7 linked regions of the Homo sapiens genome follow. The protein of the gene in region 1 purifies or fractionates together with the protein of each later gene. This does not show direct contact. Each region holds a gene or a part of one and is shown in the gene's direction. Other genes may lie near its edges.

Evidence for each region.
Region 2: the proteins of C1orf210 (region 1) and TTYH3 purify together in Homo sapiens (affinity purification with mass spectrometry; one large-scale study listed by BioGRID and IntAct). This does not show direct contact.
Region 3: the proteins of C1orf210 (region 1) and SLC27A4 purify together in Homo sapiens (affinity purification with mass spectrometry; one large-scale study listed by BioGRID and IntAct). This does not show direct contact.
Region 4: the proteins of C1orf210 (region 1) and FAM234A purify together in Homo sapiens (affinity purification with mass spectrometry; one large-scale study listed by BioGRID and IntAct). This does not show direct contact.
Region 5: the proteins of C1orf210 (region 1) and SNX30 purify together in Homo sapiens (affinity purification with mass spectrometry; one large-scale study listed by BioGRID and IntAct). This does not show direct contact.
Region 6: the proteins of C1orf210 (region 1) and RIC1 purify together in Homo sapiens (affinity purification with mass spectrometry; one large-scale study listed by BioGRID and IntAct). This does not show direct contact.
Region 7: the proteins of C1orf210 (region 1) and ZDHHC3 purify together in Homo sapiens (affinity purification with mass spectrometry; one large-scale study listed by BioGRID and IntAct). This does not show direct contact.

Annotation. Positions count from the first base shown.
Region 1 is NC_000001.11:43,282,782-43,286,749, reverse strand, and holds the start of C1orf210 (type III endosome membrane protein TEMP), read left to right. Parts: upstream 1-1,168; 5' UTR 1,169-1,306; intron 1,307-3,381; 5' UTR 3,382-3,479; coding exon 3,480-3,498; intron 3,499-3,642; coding exon 3,643-3,965; 3' UTR 3,966-3,968. UniProt on the Homo sapiens protein: May be involved in membrane trafficking between endosomes and plasma membrane.
Region 2 is NC_000007.14:2,645,486-2,648,985, forward strand, and holds part of TTYH3 (protein tweety homolog 3), read left to right. Parts: intron 1-1,367; coding exon 1,368-1,537; intron 1,538-1,656; coding exon 1,657-1,768; intron 1,769-1,932; coding exon 1,933-2,153; intron 2,154-2,473; coding exon 2,474-2,569; intron 2,570-3,500. UniProt on the Homo sapiens protein: Calcium-independent, swelling-dependent volume-regulated anion channel (VRAC-swell) which plays a pivotal role in the process of regulatory volume decrease (RVD) in the brain through the efflux of anions like chloride and organic osmolytes like glutamate.
Region 3 is NC_000009.12:128,350,527-128,354,026, forward strand, and holds part of SLC27A4 (long-chain fatty acid transport protein 4), read left to right. Parts: coding exon 1-49; intron 50-2,111; coding exon 2,112-2,221; intron 2,222-2,498; coding exon 2,499-2,708; intron 2,709-2,888; coding exon 2,889-3,015; intron 3,016-3,500. UniProt on the Homo sapiens protein: Mediates the levels of long-chain fatty acids (LCFA) in the cell by facilitating their transport across cell membranes. Appears to be the principal fatty acid transporter in small intestinal enterocytes.
Region 4 is NC_000016.10:237,821-241,320, forward strand, and holds part of FAM234A (protein FAM234A), read left to right. Parts: intron 1-2,389; exon of another isoform or gene 2,390-2,456; intron 2,457-3,500.
Region 5 is NC_000009.12:112,749,363-112,753,559, forward strand, and holds the start of SNX30 (sorting nexin-30), read left to right. Parts: upstream 1-1,397; 5' UTR 1,398-1,639; coding exon 1,640-1,795; intron 1,796-4,197. UniProt on the Homo sapiens protein: Involved in the regulation of endocytosis and in several stages of intracellular trafficking. Together with SNX4, involved in autophagosome assembly.
Region 6 is NC_000009.12:5,765,107-5,768,606, forward strand, and holds part of RIC1 (guanine nucleotide exchange factor subunit RIC1), read left to right. Parts: intron 1-307; coding exon 308-466; intron 467-555; coding exon 556-692; intron 693-3,500. UniProt on the Homo sapiens protein: The RIC1-RGP1 complex acts as a guanine nucleotide exchange factor (GEF), which activates RAB6A by exchanging bound GDP for free GTP, and may thereby be required for efficient fusion of endosome-derived vesicles with the Golgi compartment.
Region 7 is NC_000003.12:44,966,175-44,969,674, reverse strand, and holds part of ZDHHC3 (palmitoyltransferase ZDHHC3), read left to right. Parts: intron 1-3,500. UniProt on the Homo sapiens protein: Golgi-localized palmitoyltransferase that catalyzes the addition of palmitate onto various protein substrates.

The DNA of each region.
Region 1 (3,968 bases):
GGCTGGAGTGTGATGGCGCAATCATGGCTCACTGTAGCCTAAAACTTCTGGGCTCAGGCAGTCCTCCCCCCTCAGCTTCCCCAGTAGCTAGGACTACAGGTGAGCATTACCACGCCCAGCTAATTTTTGTGTTTCTAGTAGAGATGGGGTCTCCCTATGTTGCCCAGGCTGATCTCCGCTCATGGGCTCAAGCAATCAACCCGCTTTGGCCTCCCAAAGTGCTGGGATTACAGGCGTGAGCCACCATACTTGGCCTCTCTGCAGCCCTTGCTCCCACTGTGCCCGGCCTATCCTTGCGAATTCGGGGCCTCCAGGCCTTGGCGCGTGCGGTCCTTCCTCCCTTAGGTAGTTACGGGGAGCCTGCCCTGGGTCAGTACTGTGCTGGGAGCCACAGGCTGTCAAAGCCTGGCCCCACCCCAGGAGAGCGAATAATCACAAGATAATGAGGAATGCTGCGACAGTGGGTGCTCTGGGCATGGAAGAGTGGGGACTTGCAGGGTAGAGGGAGGACTCAGGGAAGGTGATTCCTGAACTGGAGCTTGAAGAACAGGGGGCACCAGGCCCAGAGACGAGGAGTAAAGCTAAAGGGAATCAGAGAGCACCCGGGAGAGGTTCAGAGCCTGGCTTGTGGGGTCACGGGATCCTGAGATCCAGATGAAGGCTGAGCCCCCATCCAGATCCACCCCTCACCCCCTACACAGTTACACACACATTTGTAGGCAATTTGGGAGTGTTCTTGGTCCTCCTGGCTTTGCCTGGAAAGAATGCCCTCCCCACCCGCTCTGGTTCCAGCCCACCACCCTTACAGGCCTGCAAAGCTCCCTCTTCAACTCTGGACTTTGTACCAGTCACCGGACGTTCAGTTGTTTATCAACCTGAGCACCTGCCTGCTGAGGTGTCTGCCCCTCTAGGGCCCGCTGGACGCTTCTCTGGATCCCAGCTGTACAAACCGCAAGCATTGGGGGGTGAGGGTGAGGTCTACACCCATAAAGTTCTTGGCAAAAGCTTGGGGGAGAGGTAGAATTATCCCTCCCCACTGGAGGCGCTGCCGCAGCCCGCCCTCTGCCAGACCTGCAGCTTCAGCCCCGCCCACTGCCTCCGCAGGTGAGTCAAGCTCTGCCTTGACCCGCCCACCTGTCCAGGTTCTGCCGGCCCCAGCCGGAAGCTTACTCCGCGGATTGTGCACAGTTCTTGAAGGTGGGAACAGAAGAGAAGGCCCGGGGGGGCCGGGGAGGGGGTACCCAGGCTCTGCACAGTACCCAAGGGGCTTCTGGCAGCAGGAAGGAAGCTACACATCAGAGTTGGGGTAGGTGTCTGTGCATGTCAGAGGGGTGTTTGTTGGTGGAGGAAAGTGTGACCTGGGGGGAGGGGCTGTGCGTATGGGGGATGGGCAGATCAGTGTGGGCTGTGAGTTCAGAGGCCTGTTGGGGAGTGTATATGCACCCTTGGAAGGTTAGTGTGTGTGTGTCTTCTTGGGAAGAATTCACAGGGCAGGGAGGAAAGGAATAGGAATACAACCTTAGAAACGTCAAATTGAATTCAGTTCATTCCAGTGTAACACATTCTCATGTTTTGCGGACCTAGTACTAGGATGAGGCCCACAGCAGGCTGAGGAATGAATGAGCAGCTGACCTCTCCTTCCCAGGACGTCTCTCCCGCTCCCACCTGTATATTCACTCTCACGCTCCCCTCGTTAATTTCACAAGCACCACACTGAGGGGCTGAACGCCCAGCTCCCTGCAGCGCCAGGGTACAGATCCTTCAGCCAGCCGTTGCCCACGGGGAGCTGCCCGCCTAGCAATGACTGGTTCTGACTGGTGGTTGACTGGGCAGGATGGTGACAGGTCATCCAGGGTAGGTCCAGGGACAACCTCACAGGCAGGTATGGTCTGATTTGGCCTTGACAGACTGGCGCCCCAAAAACTGAGGAGGGCGTGGCCAGGGAGCAGGAGGGTGGGTGAGTGGGAGGAGGGCATGTGTGTCTGTCTGAAGTGCTGGGGAGGGAACTGTGGAGAAGAGGAAGAAGAGTTTGGCTTGAGGGCCGTGTGCTGGATTGCAAGGCACTGTGGGGCATGGGGAGCTTTTGAAGGGATTTTAACCAGGCTAGTGATGGGGTCAGATTTGGGTTGTAGGCCCATCACTCTGTGGAAGAGACCAGAGGTGGGGAGCCCAGTTAGGAGATTATGGCTAGAGTACAAGAGGAAGGTGGCTTGGACTCAGCTGTGGCAGTGGGGTGGAGAAGAGGGTATTGTCATTCCAGAGATGTTTAGTGGAAGACATGATGGGGATTGATACCAGGTTGGATGTGAGGAGGTTGGGGGGGGTTTGAAGGCACTTGTATCAAAGAATATACTGGGGTACTCCCCTCAACTTCTCTCCTAAGTACTTCCCTAGCCCGGCTACTCTGCCCCCAAGGACTCCCCTGGTTCAGGTGCTCCACTGGCAGATATGCTCCTGCCCTAGCTGTTCGTCTGCCAGGTACTTCTAACTTTCATGCTCCTCCTCTAGATACTCCCCAGATTCAGGTGCGCCTCCTCCAGACACTCCTTTGATCCAGGTGCTCCTCCTACAGGTGTTTCCATGCCTGGATGATCTTCCTCCAGCTACTCCCCTAATTGAAGTGTTCCTCCTCTAGGTGTCCCCAGCCCTGGGTGATAATTTCCTGATTCAGGTGATCCTCATTTGGATACTCCCTGGCTTGAGCCTCCCTGTGGGGGCAGAGTGTGGGCCTCCTTTGAGTAGAGGTGAAAGGACAGGGGTTTGCTTGAAGGGCTGAGGGTAGAGGTGGGCAGCAGCGGCTTTCAACTTAGAAGGGCCAGGGCTGCTCTGGCTGTGTCCAGGGCCCCTGTCCTCAGTAGCAACTTGCATCACCCTCCCCATATGTGGTCTCCGCTTTGGCTGGGTAGCTCCAAGCAATTGCTGTTTTCTGACCTTCGGGAGCCAGGACCCACCTCTGCCCCTGTCTCCCATCCTCAGCTTACCAAGCAGTGCAACAGACTGGGCTCTGGGTTCGAATCTGAAGACTTTAGTTGAGTCAGTTCACCTTTTTCAGCCTCAGAGCCCTCATCTATAAAGTGGGGATAATGTTTATACTTACCTTACTGGGTTTTGTGAGCATGATGCCTGGTGCTTGAATTATAAGGAATGCTCAGTAAGTTCTACAATTTATTTTTTTTTTAGCAGCTTCCAGAGCCAAACCCTGTGATGGTCCCTTACAAATAGCCAGTTTCTGTAGGCTCAGCTTGTTTCTCTTCTGTGGAGAGCTGGTGTGGTCAGTTGTCCAGTCCCCAGAGTTTGTGCAGGGCTACCATGGCTGTGAGTGTGACCTGGAAAGTGCACCCTGTGACCATCCCTGACACCCATACCTATGTTATTTTCTAGGACTTGTGCCCTGGGGCTGCCTGGCATCTGGGGGCCTCCTCAGAGCCAGGGCTCTTTCTGGTTGAGGCTGAGACTCACTGGTGTCATCAGGCCCCTCCATGAATGAGACAAACAAAAGTGAGTGACAGTGGGAGGATGATGGGGGTGGGGGGCTTCCCCTTAGATGCTGGGGTTGGGGGAAGGACCCTACCTGCACTGCTCTTGGTTTCTCCAGGGAGCCCCCTCTGGGGCCCACCTATAATGCTGTCCCTTTCTCTGCAGCACTTGTTGGGCCTTCGGAGCTCCCCACAGCGTCTGCTGTGGCCCCTGGCCCAGGCACTGGGGCTCGGGCATGGCCTGTGCTGGTAGGATTTGTGCTGGGGGCTGTGGTCCTCTCGCTCCTCATTGCACTTGCTGCCAAATGCCACCTCTGCCGCCGATACCATGCCAGCTACCGGCACCGCCCACTGCCTGAGACAGGAAGGGGAGGCCGCCCACAGGTGGCTGAAGATGAGGATGATGATGGCTTCATCGAGGACAATTACATTCAGCCTGGGACTGGCGAGCTGGGGACAGAGGGTAGCAGGGACCACTTCTCCCTCTGAGCT
Region 2 (3,500 bases), on another chromosome or scaffold:
CCTGGCCTCGGGACAGGGGAGCTCTGGTGTCTGTTCTGTGGTCTGTCTTTTGTGTTCAGAGACCTGGGGAGAGCCACACTGGAAGGCCGTGCTTGGAGCCAGACAGGGCTGTGTGTCCGATGGGGCGCCTGTATGCAGCCTGTAGCAGTGTGGGGCCAGCCCCACCATCTCATCCAGCGTGGGGGCACGCCATGGACGGTGCCCACCCCTGAGTGCAGCTTCTCGGTGCACAGACCCCAGACAGGATCAGACTCCTGATGGGGCCTCTTCCATGTTCACCCCTCAGAAACACTTTCATGGTCAGCAAGAGGGGGTTCAGTCCCCCACAGGCTCCCAATTTCCCTACCAGACCTGAAAACCTCAGGACTACAGCTGGGGTGGGGGATCCTGCCAGGACTCAGGTAGGAGAGTTCTGGGCCTGAGACGGGGACGGGCTCTGGGGTCCTGGGGCTGTCTCGGGCTGGGGGTGAGGACAGTAGCTGATGCCGGCAGCCCCCTCCCCAGGGCTTCGCTTCTTCGGGGGAGCAGCAGCACTTTTTTTTTTTTTAGACAGTGTCTCGCTCTTGTCGCCCAGGCTGGAGTGCAGTGGTGCAATCTCGGCTCACTGCAACCTCCGCCACCCGGGTTCAAGTGATCCTCCTGCCTCAGCCTCCTGAGTAGCTGGGATTACAGGCACCCGCCACCAGGCCTGGCTAATTTTTGTACTTTTAGTAGAGATGGGGTTTCGCCACGTTGGCCAGGCTGGTCTCAAACTCCTGACCTCAGGTGATCCGCCCGCCTCGGCCTCCCAAAGTGCTGGGATTACAGGCGTGAGCCACCCTGCCCTGCTCAGCAGCACTTCTTTCTACAGAAGATAAACCAGGCTCGGAGAGGTGGAGGGACCTCCCTAGTGGGGCTGTGGCTGCAAAGATGGTGGCTCACCAGCAGCGTCCTCGTTTGTCACCCACATTCTCTGGCTACCTCCATCCAGCGCCTCTCCTTGGGGCCTGGTGGGGCAGACGTCCTGAGCACCTGCCCTGGACTCTGGGGACCCGGTGGGGAGGGGACATGTGCCCTTGCTGGAGCCACAGAAGCCTGGAGTCGGTTCACCCGGCCCCTCCTAGTGGCTATGGAGTCTTCATGCTGTGCAGCCTTGAGGATGGCGAGACCGGGGTCCCAGGTGTGGGGTCCAGGCCTGGGTGACCCCAGGTGCATCACTGAGGTGGTGGGAGACTCCATGCCTCACCTACAAGTCGGGGATGGGGCCCACCTCCCAGGGCTGGGGGCAGGATTAAATGGGAGTCTGCGCCAGGTCCCCTGCTGGGGCGGGGCGTGGGACTCTGAGCTGGGGGTCCACCCCTCCAGCGCCGCTTCCTGCCTGCCCTCAGGCCCTGCTGCTCCTGGGGGCCGCCGCCCTGGCCTGCCTCGCCCTGGACCTCCTCTTCCTGCTCTTCTACTCCTTCTGGCTGTGCTGCCGGCGGCGCAAGAGCGAGGAGCACCTGGACGCCGACTGCTGCTGCACGGCCTGGTGTGTCATCATCGCCACGCTGGTGTGCAGGTGAGCGCGGTGGGGCGGGGACGGAGGGCGGGGCCAGAGGGGGCGGCCCGAGGGGGCGGGGCTGGAGTGGGGTGTGTGTGGGTGGGCGGGGCTACATCTCACGGGCCCGCCCTCTCCAGCGCCGGCATCGCAGTGGGATTCTACGGCAACGGGGAGACCAGTGATGGCATCCATAGGGCCACCTACTCGCTCCGCCACGCCAACCGCACGGTGGCCGGGGTCCAGGACCGCGTGAGTGGCCGCGGAGTTGGGGCCAGGAGCACTCTTGCTGCTCCGGAGCCCCACGTCTGCGCGAGGACGGGCGGGGCAGCCGGGACTGGGGCTGTGCAGGAGGGGCCCAGACTCTGGGGCGAGGCGGGCGCGCTCCCAGCCTCACGCCCGCGGGTCCGGCGCAGGTGTGGGACACGGCGGTGGGGCTGAACCACACGGCGGAGCCCAGCCTGCAGACCCTGGAGCGGCAGCTGGCCGGGCGGCCCGAGCCCCTGCGAGCCGTACAGAGGCTGCAGGGCCTGCTGGAGACGCTGCTGGGCTACACGGCCGCCATCCCCTTTTGGAGGAACACGGCGGTGTCGCTGGAGGTGCTGGCGGAGCAGGTGGATCTCTACGACTGGTACAGGTGCGGCCAGGCCCTCTTCCCTGCCCGCCCCACGTGGGAAAGCATCACCCTCCTTGGGCCAATTTTTGCTCTCAGCACCTAGTACATGAGGCCTGATGGGCAGGGTGTGGCCCAGGGCCACTGGAGGTCACAGGCAGTGGCTGGAGTTCCCCTAATGGGAGCCTTTCTCAAGAACTGACACCAGTCCCCATGACCCAGACGCTCTGAATGCCCTCTGGGGTGCCAGGCTGCTGGCCTCAGCTCCCCCTCAAGGGCCCCTGGCGCCCCACTCCCAGGCCCCGGGTCCCTGTGCCCTGGCGCACTCCCAGGTTTGCCTGCAGGTGGCTGGGCTACCTGGGCCTGCTGCTGCTGGACGTCATCATCTGCCTCCTGGTGCTGGTTGGCCTCATCCGCAGCTCCAAGGGCATCCTGGTGGGGTGAGTCTGGGGGTGTCGGCCCCCCGTGGGCCCAAAGCGGAGGGGCAGGGCAAGGCACCATGTTACCCCTTCCCCCACCTCATCTGCAGATCCTAGCCACAAGCTCTGCGGTGGGGGCTGAGCGGGACCCCCCTGCACTGGGCCTGCTCTGAGATGCCCCTTCTGTGCCTGTGGCCTGTGCCCCTGTGGCCAGCATCCCAGCACACTTGCCCCCAGCCCTTGATTTCCTGCAAGAGTCTGCACGTGGGGCACTTGTAGCCCAGGACCTGAAGCAACCTGCCCAGGTCTCCGAGTGCCTGGGGCCACCCAGAGACCAGGCTGGGGCTCCTTCCTCCACCCCTTCCATCCTTGGCCCTGGGGCAGCCTGGGTTCCAGCCCCAGCTCCGGCTCACTAGGAGGGTGACCTTGGGCAGGTGGCTTATTGTTGCTGGGCCTTGGTCTCCTCGTTTGGAAGGCAGAGAGAGCGGCAGCTCCTCTGTGGGAGGTAAGGTGTTGTCACTGCCCTTCACCACGCAGCTGCACAGCCATGGCTGGTGCCTCCCTGGGCCAGGCCTGGGAGAGATGGGAGAACACACAGCCTCCCCCCACGTGGCACTCACAGGCCACAGAGGAGCAGAATGAGGGAAACGTGGCATGGGCCAGAGGTGATAGCACCCTGGAGAGGAAAAGCCGGGGTGGTGTGAAGGCCTGCAGTAGGGTGGTGGGGGGGGGTGCAGCTTCACGCTGTGCCCAAGGAGACCTGAGCGAGGAGGGATTGAGCAGGGGCCCAAGGGAGTAAGGGACGCCTGGACAGACAGGAAGGATGACAGTGTGCAGTGGGTTGTGGGGTCCTCAGTGGGGTGTGCAGGCCTGCAGTGGGGTGTGGGGCCCGCAGTGGGGTGTGGGGCCCGCAGTGGGGTGTGGGGCCCGCAGTGGGGTGTGGGGCCTGCAC
Region 3 (3,500 bases), on another chromosome or scaffold:
CGGCCCAACGACATCGTCTATGACTGCCTCCCCCTCTACCACTCAGCAGGTAACTCTAGGGCTGTCACACAGCCTCCAGCACCTGCCAGGTCTCTAGGAACCCCACCCCCATCAGGCAGTGTGCTGCAGTAGAAACACACAGCTTTGGGCCAGGCGCAGTGACTCACACCTGTAATCCCAGCACTTTGGGAGGCCAAGGTGGGCGGATCACTTGAGGCCAGGAGTTCGAGACCAGCCTGGCCAACATGGCAAAACCCCATCTCTACTAAAAATACAAAAATTAGGCTGGGTGTGGTGGCTCACACCTGTAATCCCAGCACTTTGAGAGGCCAAGGTGGGCGGATCACTTGAGGCCAGGAGTTCGAGACCATCCTGGCTAACACGGTGAAACCCCGTCTCTACTAAAAGTACAAAAAATTAGCCAGGTGTGGTGGCTCATGCCTGTAGGCCCAGCTACTCGGGAGGGTGAGGCAGGAGAATGGCGTGAACCCGGGAGGTGGAGCTTGCAGTGAGCCAAGATCGTGCCACTGCACTCCAGCCTGGGCAACAGTACAAGACTCTGTCTCGGAAAAAAAAAAAAGAAAGAAATTATCTGGGTGTGGTGGCGTGTGCCTGTAGTCCCAGCTATCTGTGAGGCTGAGGCACGAGAATTGCTTGAACCTGGGAGGCAAAGGTTGCAGTGAGCTGAGATCACGCCACTGCATTCCAGCCTGGGCAACAGAGCGAGACACTGTCTCAAAAAAAAAAAAAATTAGCTGGGTCTGGTGGCGTGTGCCTGTAATCCCAGCTACCTGTGAGGCTGAGGCATGAGAATTGCTTGAACCTGGGAGGCAAAGGTTGCAGTGAGCTGAGATCACGCCACTGCACTCCAGCCTGGGCAACAGAGCGAGACACTGTCTCAAAAAAAATAAAAATAGGCTGGGCGCAGTGGCTCACGCCTGTAATCCCAACACTTTGGGAGGTGAGTGGATCACGAGGTCAGGAGTTCGAGACCAGCCTGGTTAACATGGTGAAACCCTGTCTCTACTAAAAGTACAAAAAGTAGCTGGGCTTGGTGGCGGGTGCCTGTAATCCCAGCTACCCAGGAGGCTGAGGCAGGAGAATGGTTTGAACCCAGGAGGCAAAGGTTGCAGTGAGCCTAGATCGTGCCATTGCACATCAGCCTGGGTGACAGGGCAAGACTCTGTCTCAAAATAAATAAATAAATTAATTTAATTTAATTTAAAAATAAAAATAAACAGGATTAGCCAGGCGTGGTGCACATGCCTATGGTCTCAGCTACTGGGAAGGCTGAGACAGGAGAATCACTTGAGCCTGGGAGTTTAAGGCCAGCCTGGGCAACATGGTGAGACCTGTCTCTAAAAAAAATTTTGTTTTAGGCCAGGTGTGGTGGCTCACGCCTGTAATCCCAACACTTTGGGAGGCCGAGGCGGGCGGATCACGAGGTCAGGAGATCAAGACCATCCTGGCTAACACGATGAAACCCCATCTCTACTAAAAATACAAAAAAAAAAAAAAATTAGCCGGGCGTGGTGGCGGGCGCCTGTAGTCCCAGCTACTCGGGAGGATGATGCAGGAGAATGGCATGAACCCGGAAGGCGGAGCTTGCAGTGAGCCGAGATGGCATCACTGTACTCCAGGCTGGGCGACAGAGCGAGACTCCGTCTCAAAAAAAAAAAAAAAAGTTGTTTTAAATTGAAAAAAGGATGAGCACACCAGCCTCACAGTGTGTGTGGCAGTGTCCCACGGGGCATCTGGGCCTGTCTCATTTCAGTTTGTTTCCACAGATATGCATGGCATTGCTGCTTGTTTGTAGGGGCTTAAGGGAAGACAGCTTGAATAAATATAGCTCCTGCCCTCCAGGTGCTTAGAGTCGGGTGTATATGTGAGTGTAGGAGAGAGGCAGGGAGCAAGAGGGCAGCACCAGGGAAGAGCCTGGTGATGGAAGCCGGGGAGGCTTCTTGGAGGAGGTCACCCAAGGCAGGCAGATGTGAGGTGCAGAAGCCTGCAGGGCAGCACAAGCCTGCCTGGCTGGATGGCAGTATCACTGATTTGGGGCCGGGGAGGGTCTTCATCTCGCTGACCCTCAGGGGCCATCCCTCTGCCTCCAGGAAACATCGTGGGAATCGGCCAGTGCCTGCTGCATGGCATGACGGTGGTGATTCGGAAGAAGTTCTCAGCCTCCCGGTTCTGGGACGATTGTATCAAGTACAACTGCACGGTGAGCGAGAGCGGGAAGGGTGAGCTGTCCCTTTCCCCTAGTTACCCTCTTCCCAACTACACTCCGGGGCATCTGTCTTATAGCTGAGGTGGCCAGTCATTCCAAAGGGCTCATTTGTGGCAAAGTTCCCATTGTTCAGATGGGAAGGCTGAGACCCGGAGAGGGAAAGGATGGCATGGCCAGCCCCTGGGGAGAGTAGGGGCTTGAGGGATCAGGAGAATCCTAGTGTAGTGAGGGCAGCCTCTGGAGCCTCGAATCACACCAAGTTCACCCCCAGATTGTGCAGTACATTGGTGAACTGTGCCGCTACCTCCTGAACCAGCCACCGCGGGAGGCAGAAAACCAGCACCAGGTTCGCATGGCACTAGGCAATGGCCTCCGGCAGTCCATCTGGACCAACTTTTCCAGCCGCTTCCACATACCCCAGGTGGCTGAGTTCTACGGGGCCACAGAGTGCAACTGTAGCCTGGGCAACTTCGACAGCCAGGTGCGGCCAGGTTGGGGATGGGCGAGGCTGCTGCAGGGATGGCCCACAGAAGGCACTGGATGCAGAGGGGAGGGCAGAGTTCGAGCGTGAGAGTGTGGGTGCTGGAGTCCCACTTCCCCCTCATTGTCCAGTTTTGGGCCCATGGTGAGAGAGCCCAGGCCCAAGTCTTGGCCTTCGCAGGTGGGGGCCTGTGGTTTCAATAGCCGCATCCTGTCCTTCGTGTACCCCATCCGGTTGGTACGTGTCAACGAGGACACCATGGAGCTGATCCGGGGGCCCGACGGCGTCTGCATTCCCTGCCAGCCAGGTCTGCCACTTCGGGGTCAGAGAGGGAGGGGTTGGCCTGGGAAGGAAGGAGGCCAGGCGCGTGTGGATGGGGAGCCTTGTTCTGACCAGTGGCCATCAGTTATCTCTGCTCTTAGGGTTACAAGTTACTCATTTATTTGTGTATCCATCCATTCATTCATTCATTCGCCATTCTATCTGTACATCAGTCCATTCATTCATTCTTTTTTTTTTTTTTATTTGAGACGGAGTCTCGCTCTGTCGCCCAGGCTGGAGTGCAGTGGCGGGATCTCGGCTCACTGCAAGCTCCGCCTCCCGGGTTCACGCCATTCTCCTGCCTCAGCCTCCCAAGTAGCTGGGACTACAGGCGCCCGCCACTACGCCCGGCTAATTTTTTGTATTTTTAGTAGAGACGGGGTTTCACCGTTTTAGCCGGGATGGTCTCGATCTCCTGACCTCGTGATCCGCCCGCCTCGGCCTCCCAAAGTGCTGGGATTACAGGCGTGA
Region 4 (3,500 bases), on another chromosome or scaffold:
AGCCTCTGGAGGAGCTGGGACTACAAGCACGTACTACCACGCCCAGCTATTTTTTTTATTTTTAGTAAAGACGGGGTTTCACCATGTTGGCTGGGCTCGTCTCAAACTCCTGGCCTCAGGTGATCCTCCCGCCTCGGCCTCCCAAAGTGCTAGGGTTACAGACTTGAGCCACCGTGCCTGGCCTATGTTATTTATTTTTATTTATTTATTTATTTTGAGATGGATTCTCGCTCTGTTGCCCAGGCTGGAGTGCAGTGGCTCCATCTTGGCCCACTGCAACCCCCGCCTCCCAGGTTCAAGCGATTCTCCTGCCTCAGCCTCCTGAGTAGCTGAGATTACAGGTGTGCATCACCATGCCGGGCTAATTTTTGTGTTTTTGGTAGAGACGAGGTTTCGCCATGTTGGCCAGGCTGGTCTTGAACTCCTGATGTCAAGTGATCTGCCCATCTTGGCTTCCCAAAGTGCTGGAATTAGAAGCATGAACCACCGCCCCCGCCCCTGTCCGAACATTTTTAAACCACTATGCAGCTTACCACTCCTGTGGGACAAGAGTGCCTGGTCCTATGATTTCAGCTGGGGTGCTGGCCGTAATCTCTGGGAATCTGATTAGTTAGCTAGGGCCAGGCCTAATTTATTAATGAATGCATTAATAAATTACTGTTCTGGCCAGGCACGGTGGCTCACGCCTGTAATCCCAGCCCTTTGGGAGGCCAAGGGGGGCAGATCATGAGGTCAGGAGATCGAGACCATCCTGGCTAACACAGTGAAATCCCGTCTCTACTAAAAATACAAAAAATTAGCCAGGCGTGGTGACGGGTGCCTGTAGTCCCAGCCACTCCGGAGGCTGAGGCAGGAGAATGGCGTGAACCCGGGAGGCGGAGGTTGTAGTGAGCAGAGATCGTGCCACTGCACTCCAGCCTGGGCGACAGAGTGAGACTCCGTCTCAAAAAAAAAAAAAAAAAAAAAGAAAAAAAAAATCCCTGGCTGGGCGTGGTGGCTCAAGCCTGTAATCCCAACACTTTGGGAGGCTGAGGTGGGTGGATCACGAGGTCAGGAGATCGAGACTATCCTGGCTAACATGGTGAAACCCCATCTCTACAAAAAAAAAAAAATTAGCCGGGTGTCATGGCACGTGCCTGTAGTCCCAGCTACTCAGGAGGCTGAGGCAGGAGAGTTGTTTGAACCCAGGAGGCGGAGGTTGCGGTGAGCTGAGATCGCTCCGCTACACTCCAGCCTGGGCGACAGAGCGAGCCTACGTCTCAAAAATAAAAAAAAAATACCATCCTGGCTAACACAGTGAAACCCCGTCTCTACTAAAAAATACAAAAAATTAGCCGGGCATAGTGGCGGGCACCTGTAGTCCCAGCTACTCGGGAGGATGAGGCAGGAGAATCGCTTGAACCCAGGAGGCAGAGGTTGCAGTGAGCTGAGATTGCACCACTACATTCCAGCCTGGGCGACAGAGCAAGACTCTGACTCAAGAAAATAAAAATAAAAATAAATAAAAATTGTGCCGGATGCGGTGGCTCACGCCTGTAATCCCAGCACTTTGGGAGGCTGAGGTGGGTGGATCACGAGGTCAGGAGATCGAGTCCATCCTGGCTAACGTGGTGAAACTCCGTCTCTACTAAAAATACAAAAAAAACTAGTCGGACGTGGTGGCGGGCACCTGTAGTCCCAGCTACTCGGGAGGCTGAGGCAGGAGAATGGCATGAACCCAGGAGGCGGAGCTTGCAATGAGTGGAGATTGCGCCACTGCACTCCAGCCTGGGTGACACAGCTAGGCCCCGTCTCAAAAAAAAAAAAAAAAAATTAACACTAATTTGTGGGGGAGTTGCAGGAAATCTGCCTTGGAATTCAGGAGAAAGGCTTACTCCATGGTATTTTCTGGACAGACTACAAAACTTATTCTGTGTAATAGTTGCCTATCAGCTGTTCGCCCTCAACTTATTTTTAGGAGGCATTGTGAGCCCTTCTCAAGTACTGTAAAAGTTTTTCAGTTCTGCAAAGGAAAGGAACTTGTGTTTGGGCTTTTGAGTGCTGACTGCATGTGCTGTGATACTTTTGCCTTTGTCATGGAACCATGATCTTTAAAGTGGTTCTGGAAAAATGGTTATGGGCCTGTTCTTTGTCTTGAGATTATTCTTGGTGGAGAGAGAAATAGCTGCTTGCTGTAAACAACTGGACACAGTAGCTGTCCTTGTCTGACATCTGCTTTGCTCAGCTGAAACATCTGCCTCATTGGCTGTTGTGGGTGTCTCTGAAGCTCATGTTGAATTGCTGTCAAATGCCCAGCGTGTTCTTGGTGGTGACACAGCCACATTGTGTAAATACATTTCTTAAGTCATTTGTGTGTATAGCAGCTGGATTTGGGGACAAGCATTTGGGCACACTCGCTACAAGATTGGTTAGTGATTATGGATGATGAAGTCTGTCGGAAAATTCAGATCTTGATTGTGAGTTATCTTACTTGTCTTTTAAGTTCTCTTTCATCCATTTGGCTCAGGGGACACAGCAGACATCTTCCTGGCCTTAAATAGCTTTCTTTCTGCCAGGTAAGAGAAGTATGATGAGTGCTTTGAAAGAAAAATACTGAGTTCTCTGGGGTGGAGTGTGGTTAACCAGGGTCAGTGGGGGTCACCCCAAACTTATTTAAGGCTTGAGCCGCTGCATCTGGGTGTATTTTTTTTTTTTTTTTTGAGACAGAGTCTTGCTCTTGTTGCCAAGGCTGGAGTACAATGGTGCGATCTCAGCTCACTGCAACCTCTGCCTCCTTGGTTAAAGCGATACTCCTGCCTCAGCCTCCCTAGTAGCTGGGACTACAGGCGCGTGCCACCACGCCGGCTAATTTTTGTACTTTTAGTAGAGATGGGGTTTCACAATGTTGGCCAGGTTGGTCTCGCACTCCTGACCTCAAGTGATCCAGCCGCCTAGGCCTCCTAAAGTGCTGAGATTACAGTTGTGAGCTACCACACCCAGCTGGGCTTATTATTTTTAATCCATTGACAAAATCTTTTCAGTTTCTGTTTCTAACTGGTGAAACTAGATAGTAACATTAATCTATAATCATAGTTTTCCTCTAAATATTAACTAAATATTTTATCCATTTAAAACACTGTTTTCTTCTCTTTTTTTTGAGACAGGGTCTTGCCCTGTTGCCTAGACTGGAATGCAGTGGTGTGATCTCCGCTCACCTCCCAGGCTCAAGGGAACCTCAGTCTCTCGCACAGCTGGGACTAGAGGCACATACCACCATACCCGGCTAGTTTTTGTATTTTTTTGTGGAGGTAGGGTTTTGTCATGTTGCCCAGGCTGGTCTCGAACTCCTGCGCTCGAGTGATCTTCCTGCCTCCTGCTGTAGCCTCCCGAAGTTGCTGGGATTACAAATGTATGCTACTGTGCCTAGCCTTAAAACACTTATCTTGACCGCAGAGGAGGTCTACACAAAAAGAAAGAAAAAAAAAAAGCTGTCTGCTTCAGGCTGGGCACGGTGGTTCACA
Region 5 (4,197 bases), on another chromosome or scaffold:
TAGTTATATTGTGCTATTCATTTTCATGCTAATTCAGAAGAACAGATAATAGGGTCTGTAGTAGTTGTAAGCAGCCCTTGAATGTGAAAGTGTTAACAATTTTAATCCAACTCCAAGAGGACCAGAACTTGGCATTCCTTAGATGCAGCATTTAAAATTGTTCCCAGTGCCCTTTGAATGCTACTTTTCCCAGCCAAGGCAGGCTTATGTGGAGGAGATAAAGATGATAGCTTGAGGACTAAGGGTCCAACCCTATATAAATTACATTGGGGGAAATAGGGGAAGGTCTTTGAAGCTCAGAGTCTCTGACTGATATTTTGGGTAGATTTCAACCCTCTGCATTCTCTTCTATTTGTTTCTAGAGAAAACTGTGGTAGAGGCCTTAGTGAATCCCAGAGTCAACATCTGTCATCACCTTTTAGCAGGTAAGGCTAGGCAAACCTTTGAGTTTGGAATGGGTAGGGAAAATGTGGTCCCTCACGATGAGCCTCCCTACCCATTACTTTGCTAGAGGGACTGAAAACCCTTTAAAGACTTGGCCTTGGAAACAGAAGATCTAGGGACAGGTAAGGTGGAAAAAGGAGGTGAACCTACACCCCAAAGGGCTGGAAGTAACACCTTGACTATTTGCACCACGCCAGCAAATAAAGCTGAGAATCAGCTCAGCCCAAGGCCTGGAAAGGAAGCACAAATGCATGAAGAATAACTTGAACCTCATGGTTCTTTCAAAAGTCTCTTCGGCCAAAGTGTGAGTTGAAGAGTCGCATATCATTTGAGACTCTCTACTCATGCTCGCTGTTCTGAGGTTTGACTTTACACAAATCCAGCTCAGCTGCAGAAGCAAGCCACAATGGGGACCTCAGAGTGAGCCTGAAGACTCCCCACACCGCCTCTTTGAAGTCCCTTCCAGGTTCCCCACCCGATGTCCTCTAGCTCATTTGAGCCTTGTCGCCCTTTATGCTATTCTTCCGATATGGGTCGTAATTCCGTCTATCTAGGGTTCTTCCTGCGCGTGCCTTAGAGGCCAGAAGACCCTGACTCACGTGCGTGTCCTCAAAGCCCCCAGCCCCAAGCGTGGCTGCTGGTGGGCGCATCAGTAAACGCGGGTGGAACGGAACAGGCTCCTCCAACCTCTTTTCCACCTCTGATTTCCGTTAGACATTTGCTCCGCACGGCGGCCTCCGCGAGGCAACGTTGGACACTGGGAGGACAGCCGCAGAGGCCCAGGGCGCACTTCCTGCCGGGCGGGGGCGGGGCCGCGCCTCCTCCCTCCCTCCCTCCGTCCTTCCTTCCCCACGTGCCCCTTCCCCGCCCTCCCCGCCCCCTCCCGGGCGGCCGCGGCGCCTCGGGGGCGGGGCCGGAGCGGGTGGGCGGTGTGGCTGTGTGGGCTGGGCGCCGCGGCCGTGCTGCCAGCGGACCCGCGGCGGGCTCGGGCGCGGAGCGGGGGCGCGCGGCGCGGAGCGGAGCGTCTGAGCGCCGGCAGAGACCAGCCGGCGGGTGGCGGCGGCCCCCAGCACGGCCGGTGCAAGGCCTCGGGTTAAGCGGCGGCCGAGCGGGGCTCGGCCCGGGGTGCTCGGGGAGCTCGCCGCGGCGGGCAGCAGGAGGAAGCGGCGGCGGCGCGTCCCGAGCGGTGCGCGCCATGGCGGGCGGGCCCCCCAAGGCCCTGCCGTCCACGGGGCCCCACTCCCTGCGCGACATGCCGCACCCGCTGGCCGGCTCCAGCAGCGAGGAGGCCGTGGGTGGTGACAGCACGCCCAGCCCGGACCTGCTGATGGCCCGCAGCTTCGGTGACAAGGTGGGGCGCCTGGGGCCGGGGAGTGGGAGGCTTATTTCGCTCCCCGTGGGGGGGATGATGGATCCGGAGCCTTCGTGGGCCTGGGGCCGCGCCCACCCTGCCGCCCCTTCCCGGGGGACGGGCGTGTCCTGGCCCCGGAGCCCTCGGCGAAGCGTCTCCTCTGCCGCCTCCGCGGGGTCGCAGCCGCAGAGGGACAGGCTTCGCTGCCTGTGACTGGTCGCAAGCACCGGTGACAGCTGGTGGGGAGGGGTCCAGCCTGCGTGTTGGAGCGGGAGGCGTGTGTTCAGGGCAGGGCGCCTGTGTCCTCGGATGGGGTTCCGAGTTCCTCCAGGTGCATCCCTGCAGGCTGAGCTGCTGCATAACTTGTAGCTCCTCCAGTTTCCGAGACTGCACAGAAAGCAGGAGTTCCTGGCTTTCCGTGCTGGGACCGGGCAGCCCTGGGCTTACAGCGAGAGTCTTCTTCCCCCTAGTCAGTCATGTGGGGAGTGATCTTTGTTTAGGTTTGCTGTTTGTCCTGAGGAGTCACCTGACTCAGACCCCAGCCGGCGGCGGGAGGAGAGCCTCGTTGTGGTTTTCTGTCTGGGGCTCCATTCACCTCCGACGGCCTACCACTCTGTTTAGGTTTGGCAGAGGCTGGTTTTGTGGTTGATGGAAAGAAAGCTCGCCCTTTGACCTTCTTTGTACGGAGGGAGGCTCCAGATTTTCTTAGAGCAGCACAACCCTCCTGCTGCTTGGAGAGACAGCAGAGTCCAGGCAGGGGTAAGGGACGACCTCCTCCCTACCCCCATGGCCATTTCAGCTGTGAAGGAGACTTGAGCAGTGATTGTATCCCCGCTCCTGCCGTCACTTAGTCACTAACTGCAGAAATTAGAATTGTTCTCAGGTCTTGTGATCAAGATTTTCTCTCCCTAGTAAAATACTAAATGAATTCCCCCTTGTCCCAATATTAATGGGAGCAGGGGACCTAACTTTCTTCTCCCGTTAGAGGGGACACCATGTGGTACAGTGAAAAAGGAGTATGAGAAAATATAACCTGCCCTCCTTGCAGTCAGAAGGTCACTGAGCACTTAAAATCACTAGAGAGTGCGACTTGATGTACCTTCTGCAGAGGGTTTGTGAAAGCAGGGAGTGAAGTTCCAAAGCATTAGGAACAGGAAAATTAAAAAAGCTAATGGAGGCCAGGTGCAGTGGCTCACACCTGTAATACCAGCACTTTGGGAGGCTGAAGTGGGATGATTGCTCTGAACCAAAAGTTTGAGACCAGCCTGGGCAACATATCGAGACCCCGTTTCCACATACGCACACAGCATGGTGGCATGCACCTGTAATCCAGGCTACTCAGGAGGCTGAGGCGGGAGGATTGCTTGAGCCTGGGAGTTCAAGGCTGCAGTGAGCTATGATTGCACCGCTGTACTCCAGCCTGGGCAAGAGAGTGAGACCCTGTCTCCAAAAAATGTTGAATAACTGAATAAATTTGCTTTCTTATCGACAAAAATTGGTCTTAAAATAGTGTAGGAACTGGGGGTTAAACCTCATTTCCTTCTCAGTTCTGTGTGGGACACTGAATTAATTATCTATTGCTGTGTAGCAAATTACCCCAAAACTTATCACCTGGAAATAGTGTCTGTGGGACAATCTGAGTGGTTCTGAATTAGGCCTTTCTTGAGGTTGCAGTCAAGTTGTTGGCTTGGGCTGCAGTCATCTGAAGGCTGGATTAGGGGAGGATCCACTTCTAAGCTCACTCACATGGCTGTTGGCAGGTCTTAGTTACTCTCCATAGGGCTGTTTGATGTGGCAACTGGTTTTTCCCCCCAGAGCAAGTGATCCAAGAGAGCTCAAGACTCTAGCCAGTCTTGTATAACTTATCTTGGAAATGACATGCCTCTGCTGTATTCTGTTGGTCACACAGATTGACACTGGTACAATGTGGGGAGAGGGTGTGAATATCAGGGTGTGTATACCAAGAGGTGGGGATCATTGGGCCATCTTGGAGACTGGCTACTACAGATAGCCATTTAAAATATTTACCTAACGATTCACTCATGGATGATACCTGACTCAGAAGTATGAGCATTTTACTAATAAGCACTTGGAAGACAAATTCCCCGTACCACCAAGATCTGGTTAGTGGTGAAGAAGTCAGTCTCAAGTCTAATTACCGATGGCTTCCTTTAAAGGGTCTGTTCTGTGTAGGAGGGAGAGTCTTGAAGGCATTATTAATTATTGAATATATATGTATTTTTTTGAGCAGAGACTTACTCTGTCACCCAGGCTGGAGCGCAGTGGCCTGATCCTGACTCACTGCAACCTCCACCTCCCTGGTCAAAGTGATTCTCGTGTCTCAGCTCCCGTATAGCTGTGATTACAGGCGTGTGCTACCTTGACCAGGTAATTTGTGTATT
Region 6 (3,500 bases), on another chromosome or scaffold:
TTTCCTCACTTGTAAAATACAAATGATATGCCTATCTGCAGAGTCACTGGGAGAAATAAATGAAATGACTTAAAGTATATGTATGCTATCTGGCATGTAGTAGGAGTTTAATAAATTATAGTTTACATACACCAGAAGAGTACTTGCCTCGCTTTTCCTTGTATGGTACTTTTTAATCTTATTATTAAACTAACCCCTGTGGTGGTGTGGCTACATTCTTTGAGTTTAGAAAACGAGATAAAGAATTGCTCATATCTTCCCAAATTGTGTAGTATAAAAAGAATGCTGTCCTGGTTGTTTTTTGTAGAATATGGAAGTCCCTGCAGTAAGTAGGCAACATGCTACCCTTCTATTCAACACAGCACTAGAACAAGGCAAGTGGGACCTTTGTCGACACATGATTCGATTTCTTAAAGCCATTGGCTCTGGAGAATCTGAGACACCTCCATCCACACCCACAGCTCAGGTTAGTTGCAAAAGTTACACATCTTCTCTAGGCCATACACCCACGTAGCATCTTTCTCTAATGGTACTGCATATGGTGTGTAATCCTAGGAACCCAGTTCAAGTGGTGGATTTGAGTTCTTCAGGAATCGAAGCATCAGTTTATCCCAGTCAGCTGAAAATGTTCCTGCCAGTAAATTCAGTTTACAGAAAACACTAAGTATGCCATCTGGTCCCTCTGGAAAAAGGTAAAATAATAAAGAGCCATTACTGCTTTTTGGGCATTCATGACACATTGCATTTCAAGACATTTACAAAATTAGGTCTTAATGGAAACAACTATTTAATCCAATTGCAGTTTCTTTTTCCATTCCCAAAAAGCAGAGGCCACACAGAAGGCTTCCCTTTTTCCTTCCTCCCAAGTTCACTTCAGCACCCTCTGAATAGTTTCTGCCCCTTTTTCTGGAATAGATCTTCATGTACCTGTTCTGAATGTAACAAACTTGTTTAAGACAGAGTCTCACTCTGTCACCCAGGCTGGAATGCAGTGGCACCATCTCAGCTCACTGCAACCTCCGCCTTACAGGTTCAAGCGATTATCCTGCCTCAGCCACCCAAGTAGCTGGGATTACAGGCATATGCCACCACACTCGGCTAATTTTCATATTTTTAGTAGAGACGGGGTTTCAACATGTTGCCCAGGCTAGTCTCGAACTCCTGGCCTCAAGGATCCACCTGCCTCTGCTTCCCAAAGGGCCGGGATTACAAGCGTGAGCCACCCTACCTGGCCAAATGCTACAAACTTTTTTTTCCCATAAGTTACTGGGGTCCAGGTGGTATTTGGTTACATTAATAAGTTATTTAGTGGTGATTTGTGAGATTTTGGTGCACCCATCACCCAAGCAGTATACACTGCACCATATTTGTTGTCTTTTATCCCTCACCCCCTCCCAGCCTTTCCCCCAAGTCCCCAAAGTCCATTGTATCATTCTTATGCCTTTGCGTCCTCATGGTTTAGCTCCCACATATCAGTGAGAACATACTACATTTGGTTTTCCATTCCTGAGTTACTTCACTTAGAATAATACTCTCCAATCTCATCAGGTCACTGCAAATGCTGTTAATTCATTCCTTTTTATGGCTGAGTAGTATTCCATCATATATACGTATATACAAGTTTCTTTATCCACTCGTTGACTGATGGGCATTTGGGTTGGTTCCACGATTTTGCAGTTGTGAACTGTGCTGCTATAAACGTGTGTGCAAGTATCTTTTTTGAATGACTTCTTTTCCTCTGGGTAGAACCCCAGTAGTGAGATTGCTGGATCAAATGGTAGTTCTACTTTTGGTTATTGAGGGAATCTCCACCCTGTTTTCCATAGCAGCTGTACTAGTTTACATTCCCACCGGCAGTGTAGAAGTGTTCCCTGATGGCCACATCCATGCCAACATCTACTGTTTTTTGATTATGGTCATTCTTGCAGGAGTAAGGTGGCATTGCGTTGTGGTTTTGATTTGAAAATGCAACAAACTTTTAAATTACCTCTGATGATAGAGGACCAAAAGGAAGATAGATAAATCTGTAGGTAATCCAAAAGCCTTCTTAAAGTCGTAATTTTACCTTTCCTTCTAATTATACTTTTTGATATAAATTTAGTGCTAATGCATTTGACACTCTTGTGACCTATTGATTAGAGAAGTTATTACACAGTCGGGGAGCCAAATGAATTGTATGCTGGAGACTGAAACTGCTATCACCCATAGATGGGATATTGTCTTCTGAGAGATGACTATGAATTCACACTAACATTATAAAATCATGAGAATTTCCTCTGGTTTGTGAGGCCTGTGTATTCCTTCCTATGTTCTTCTGTTGTTGTCTCATTTTTTTCCTTACCTAATCCTTTGTTTTATATTGTTCATATTCTCTTTTTTTTTTTTTCCCCAGGACAACATGAACATATGTTTATATTCTTACTACCGTGCTTGGGCACATAGTGAGAGCTTATTGAACGTTTGTTATTGTCATGTTTTACTGGGTTTTTTTGTTTTTTGAGATGGAGTTTCGCTCTTGTTGCCCAGGCTGGAGTGCAATGGCTTGATCTCGGCTCATCGCAATCTCCGCCTCCCAGGTTCAAGTGATTCTTCTGCCTCAGCCTCCCAAGTAGCTGGGATTACAGGCATGCACCACCACGCCTGGCTCATTTTGTATTTTTAGTAGAGACGGGGTTTCTCCGTATTGGTCAGGCTAGTCTCAAACTCCCGACCTCAGGTGATCCGCCTGCCTCTGCCTCCCAAAGTGCTGGGATTACAGGCATGAGCCACCATGCCCAGCCTGTTTTACTGTTTTTTAACAAGTGCTTACTACATGCCAGGCCTTATTCTAAGCATTTACATACATAGGTCCTATTTTAAACAACTCTATGAGGGTTATCCACATTGTATAGGTGAAGAAACAGAGGCCTAGGAAAATAAACTTAGTTATGTTCACACAACAAATGAGTGGCAGAGCCAAGATCCGAATCCAGGCAGTACTGCACCAGAGACTAGGCTCTTTACCCCACCACTAAACTGCCTCTCACTTAAAGCACCACATTATCCAGTTACCAAACCAGTTCCCCCACATTAGCTCATGTAAGTCAGGAATGAGAGACTATACTTAGGCAAGTTGTAATTTTTAAAAATTGGTTTCAGGACTGGCAAGGTGGCTAACACCTGTAATTCCAGCACTTTGGGAGGCCAAGGTGGGAGGATTGCTTGAGGCCAGGAGTTCAAGATGAGTCTGGGCAACACAGCAAGATCCCATCCTTGCAAAAATAAAAATACATTGGCTAGGCATGGTGGCAAGTACCTGTAGTCCCAGCTACTTGGGAGGCTGAGGTGGGGAAGATAGCTTGAGCCCAGGAGTTTGAGGTTGCAGTGAGCTATGATCACACCACTGCACTCCAGACTGGGTGACATTGTGAAACCTTGTCATTTAAGAAAAAAAAAGTTGGTATTCTTTTCATATGTCTGCATGACTCACACTGAGAAATTTAATTTCACTTTGCCTCTCT
Region 7 (3,500 bases), on another chromosome or scaffold:
CACTGCATGCAGCCCACTCGATAATGCCACCTCTGCATAACCATGTGTGGACAAGATAGCCAAACCGTAAGTAACCCAAGGTCACTGATGGAAACATCAATACTCCTCCCCCTTTTATTTTCTAGTTACTAGACAAAATTTAATTATTGTAGTAAGTAGTGAAAAGCAAGCCCTGGGGCAAGAGCAGACTTTGGGAGTATATCCTGTCTCCACCACTTCCTGGAAGTATGGTTGTAGGCATGCTTCAGTTTTCTCGTTTCTAAAAGCAGGATGGGGAAGTGGGCATTTATATGTGCAAAATAGAGTAGATGTGAGAATCAAACAGGAAGAGGCATGTGTAGCAAGCAGCCCAGTGCCCTGATGGAGGCAGTGGTGACACCTTAAGTGAGGGTCAGGAAAGAATCAGGGCCCCACCCTACATTCAGCATATCCCACACTTTGGCAACAATCAAGCAGAACTGGAGCCTACCCTCACAGAGGCCAGAAGGCAGTTCATTGTCAAATGAGATCATGCACTGGATTACAAGGGGTTCACAAACTATGAGAGTATCACCGTCATCGGCAAGTGTTCATTGGGTAGCTGGAGCAGTCATTTATTGTTGCCTTTATGAAGATGCTCCTGCTGGCTTACAAACTTCCTGCAAGGAGAAGTTAATGCAGGGAGATGGCAGCGTAGCAATTAAACAGATTGTAGTAGTTACCATCCATTAGACCTAGAAAACAAGTTAGCCACCTCCCTGTGAAGATCCACTGACTCCTTGAGCTTCACTTCCTTACTCATCTGTAAAACAGAGTGGACCACAATTTGGAAGCAGGGCGGGTAGTTCTCACAGTCTCTTTACAAGCAGCTATGTTTTTGAGGGCCCAAGTCTGATTGAGGTAACCCAATGAGTGTCATGCTCCATTAATGAGACAGGTGCCAGAAGGGGCTCATAGAAGAAGGAATGCTCAATTTTTATTTATTCATTAGTTAGTTTGTTTGACAGGGTCACACTCTGTCACCCAAGCTGGAGTGCAGTGGTGCAATCTTATCTCACTGCAGCCTCAACCTTCTGGGCTCAGGCGATCCTCCTATCTCAGCTTCCCAAGTAGCTGGGACTATAAGCACACACTACCATGCTCGGCTAATTGTTTAAGATTTTTGTAGAGATGAGGTCTCGCTATATTGCCCAGGCTAGTCTCGAACTCCTGGGCTCAAGCCATCTGTCTGCGTGGGTCTCCCAAAGTGTCCTTACAGGCGGGAGCCACCATGCCCAGACTTGTTTTTAAAGAATAGGTATTATGGGTGCCCAGAAGCCAGTGAAAGGAAAGTCTGCTTAGAGTGCCTTTTTTGAGTGTTTTTGTTTGTTTGTTTTGTTTTTTTTTAAAGAGTCAGAGATTAGAGATCCTAGTCCATCCCCCTCACTTTAGAGAGGAAGATGCTAAAGCTAAGTTGAAGTAACTTCTCCTCAGGTCCCTCAAATGTGTGTAAGGGAGCAGGAAGTACAACTCCTATTTCCTGCTTGTGCATTTGTCTCATTCCAACTTTGGGTGGAAAAAAAAAATCCATGTGCTGTGCTAAAAAGTGCAGTCTGTGACGGCAAGCAGAGCCGTTTTGAATCCTGGCTCCACCACCACCTCACTCAATGCGACCTTGGGAATATTCCCCAACCCCTCTGAGCCTTACTTTTTCCATCTCTGCAATGGCGAATAAAAGCTGCCATGCTGGGTTGCTGTAAGAATTAAAACGAGCTGCTTTGCGTAGTCCTGAAGCATAATAGGCATTCAGTTAATGTTGATGCCCATCTCCATTGCTGTAGCCAGTACTGCATGTTTTGCCTAAAACATAAGTTTTCAACAAAATGTCAAAAGGACTTAAATTTTCACATTTGTAAAACAGGAAAATTTGACTAAAATCTACCACATGGTCTTTAATATTTCTCCCAGCTCTAAAATTCTGATTTTTTTTAACCAGTTACTCTTACAAGTGGCTTGTTTTAAACTTGTCTCAATTTTTCTGTTCATTGCAATGTATAAATGATACCCATGAAAAGGGAAAGTAGACCGTGTTACCCAAATGAGTGGTGTCTTCTACGGATTTCCAATGTTTGTAACATTTATTATGTCACACTGTACATGAGTGTGTCTTTTTTTTCCCCCAATTAAAAAAAATTTATAGAAACAAGGTCTCACTATGTTGGCCAGGCTGGTCTCTAACTCCTGGGCTCCAGTGATCCTCTTGCCTCAGCCTCCCAAAGGGTTGGGATTGCAGATGTGAACCACTACACCTGGTTCGGGTGCATATTTTTTTTTAGTAGATTAGTAAAGCCAGGAGCTGGTAAAATAGCCAATTGTAATAAAATAGTTATAGTAAGTAGAGGAACTGTTAGCCTCCATGAGCTATCCAAATCCCAGACTGTTTTCTGAAATGAAGGACATTGGTAGGAGTCTGAGTGTGTGCATGAATGGGTTTTGTAAGAAGGTGGTCAGTTATGAGGCAAGAAGGAAATTTCGGTTTACCGACCACTTCCTGGTTTCCTCAATGAACTGTAATATGTGTAAGGTTTGGCTTGGAGGTACAATATTTTACTTTTTTTTTTTCCATTTGTTTTTTGTTGAAGGCTGAGTATGACAGAGACAAAAGGCAGTCAGAGGGAGACAGCCCCTGCTATAGAGAGAGAAACAGTGTAGACTTGTTGGTAGCAAAGATCTTATAAAACAGGCCAGCTCACTCTGCCTGTCTGGACACTTTCCTTGGCTAGCAGGGTGTGCCGCAGAAGATAAGGCACCTTTCTTCTGTTAGGCTTCATACCACACCCTTACCTTTTTGAAAAAGTTTAGTGACTCATCCTATTTTTTAATGAAATATTTCAAACACAGTGATTCATGATTCCCTCTTTGTTTTTCTGAGACTCATCTAAAAAGTGGGCATAAAATTTACAATCCTTTTGGATCCTTACACAAATAAAGGTAATTGTAGTGCAGGTGAATTAATTTTCTACTTGACCAATTTTGTTTCTAAAGCTTCTAAGGCAAAGATCATCTATTTGATCTTTGAGGTTGCAGGGCTGGCTTGTGAATACTTTAAGACTATCACTCTAAAATGTGAGAAGTTCTAAAAGAAACAAACACCACATTTTTAAGACTGTACGATTTAAACCATAGAAGGTTAATGTTATATTGATTAGAGTGAATTTCAGCTGAGAGTTATAGACATATCAGAAAAGATGCTACCCTCTTTCAGTGGACATTTTAAGTGATTGTTTAAGGGTAGACTGAACTATTTAACTGTGGTAAGAATTAGTTTAGGTGGGAATTCAGTGTTTAGGACAAGTTCAAGAGGATACCAGACCAGCCCTCAACAGCAGTCTAGCATAATAATAGATTTATTAAAATGTCACATATTCACTCGAAACAAATTTTGGCTTAAGCCAAAAGCATCCTATTTTAGAGTTTCTACTATTTTGCTGATGTTCATGACATCTGCTAAGAGGCTGATGAAATTGAGTTTCGATTTTATA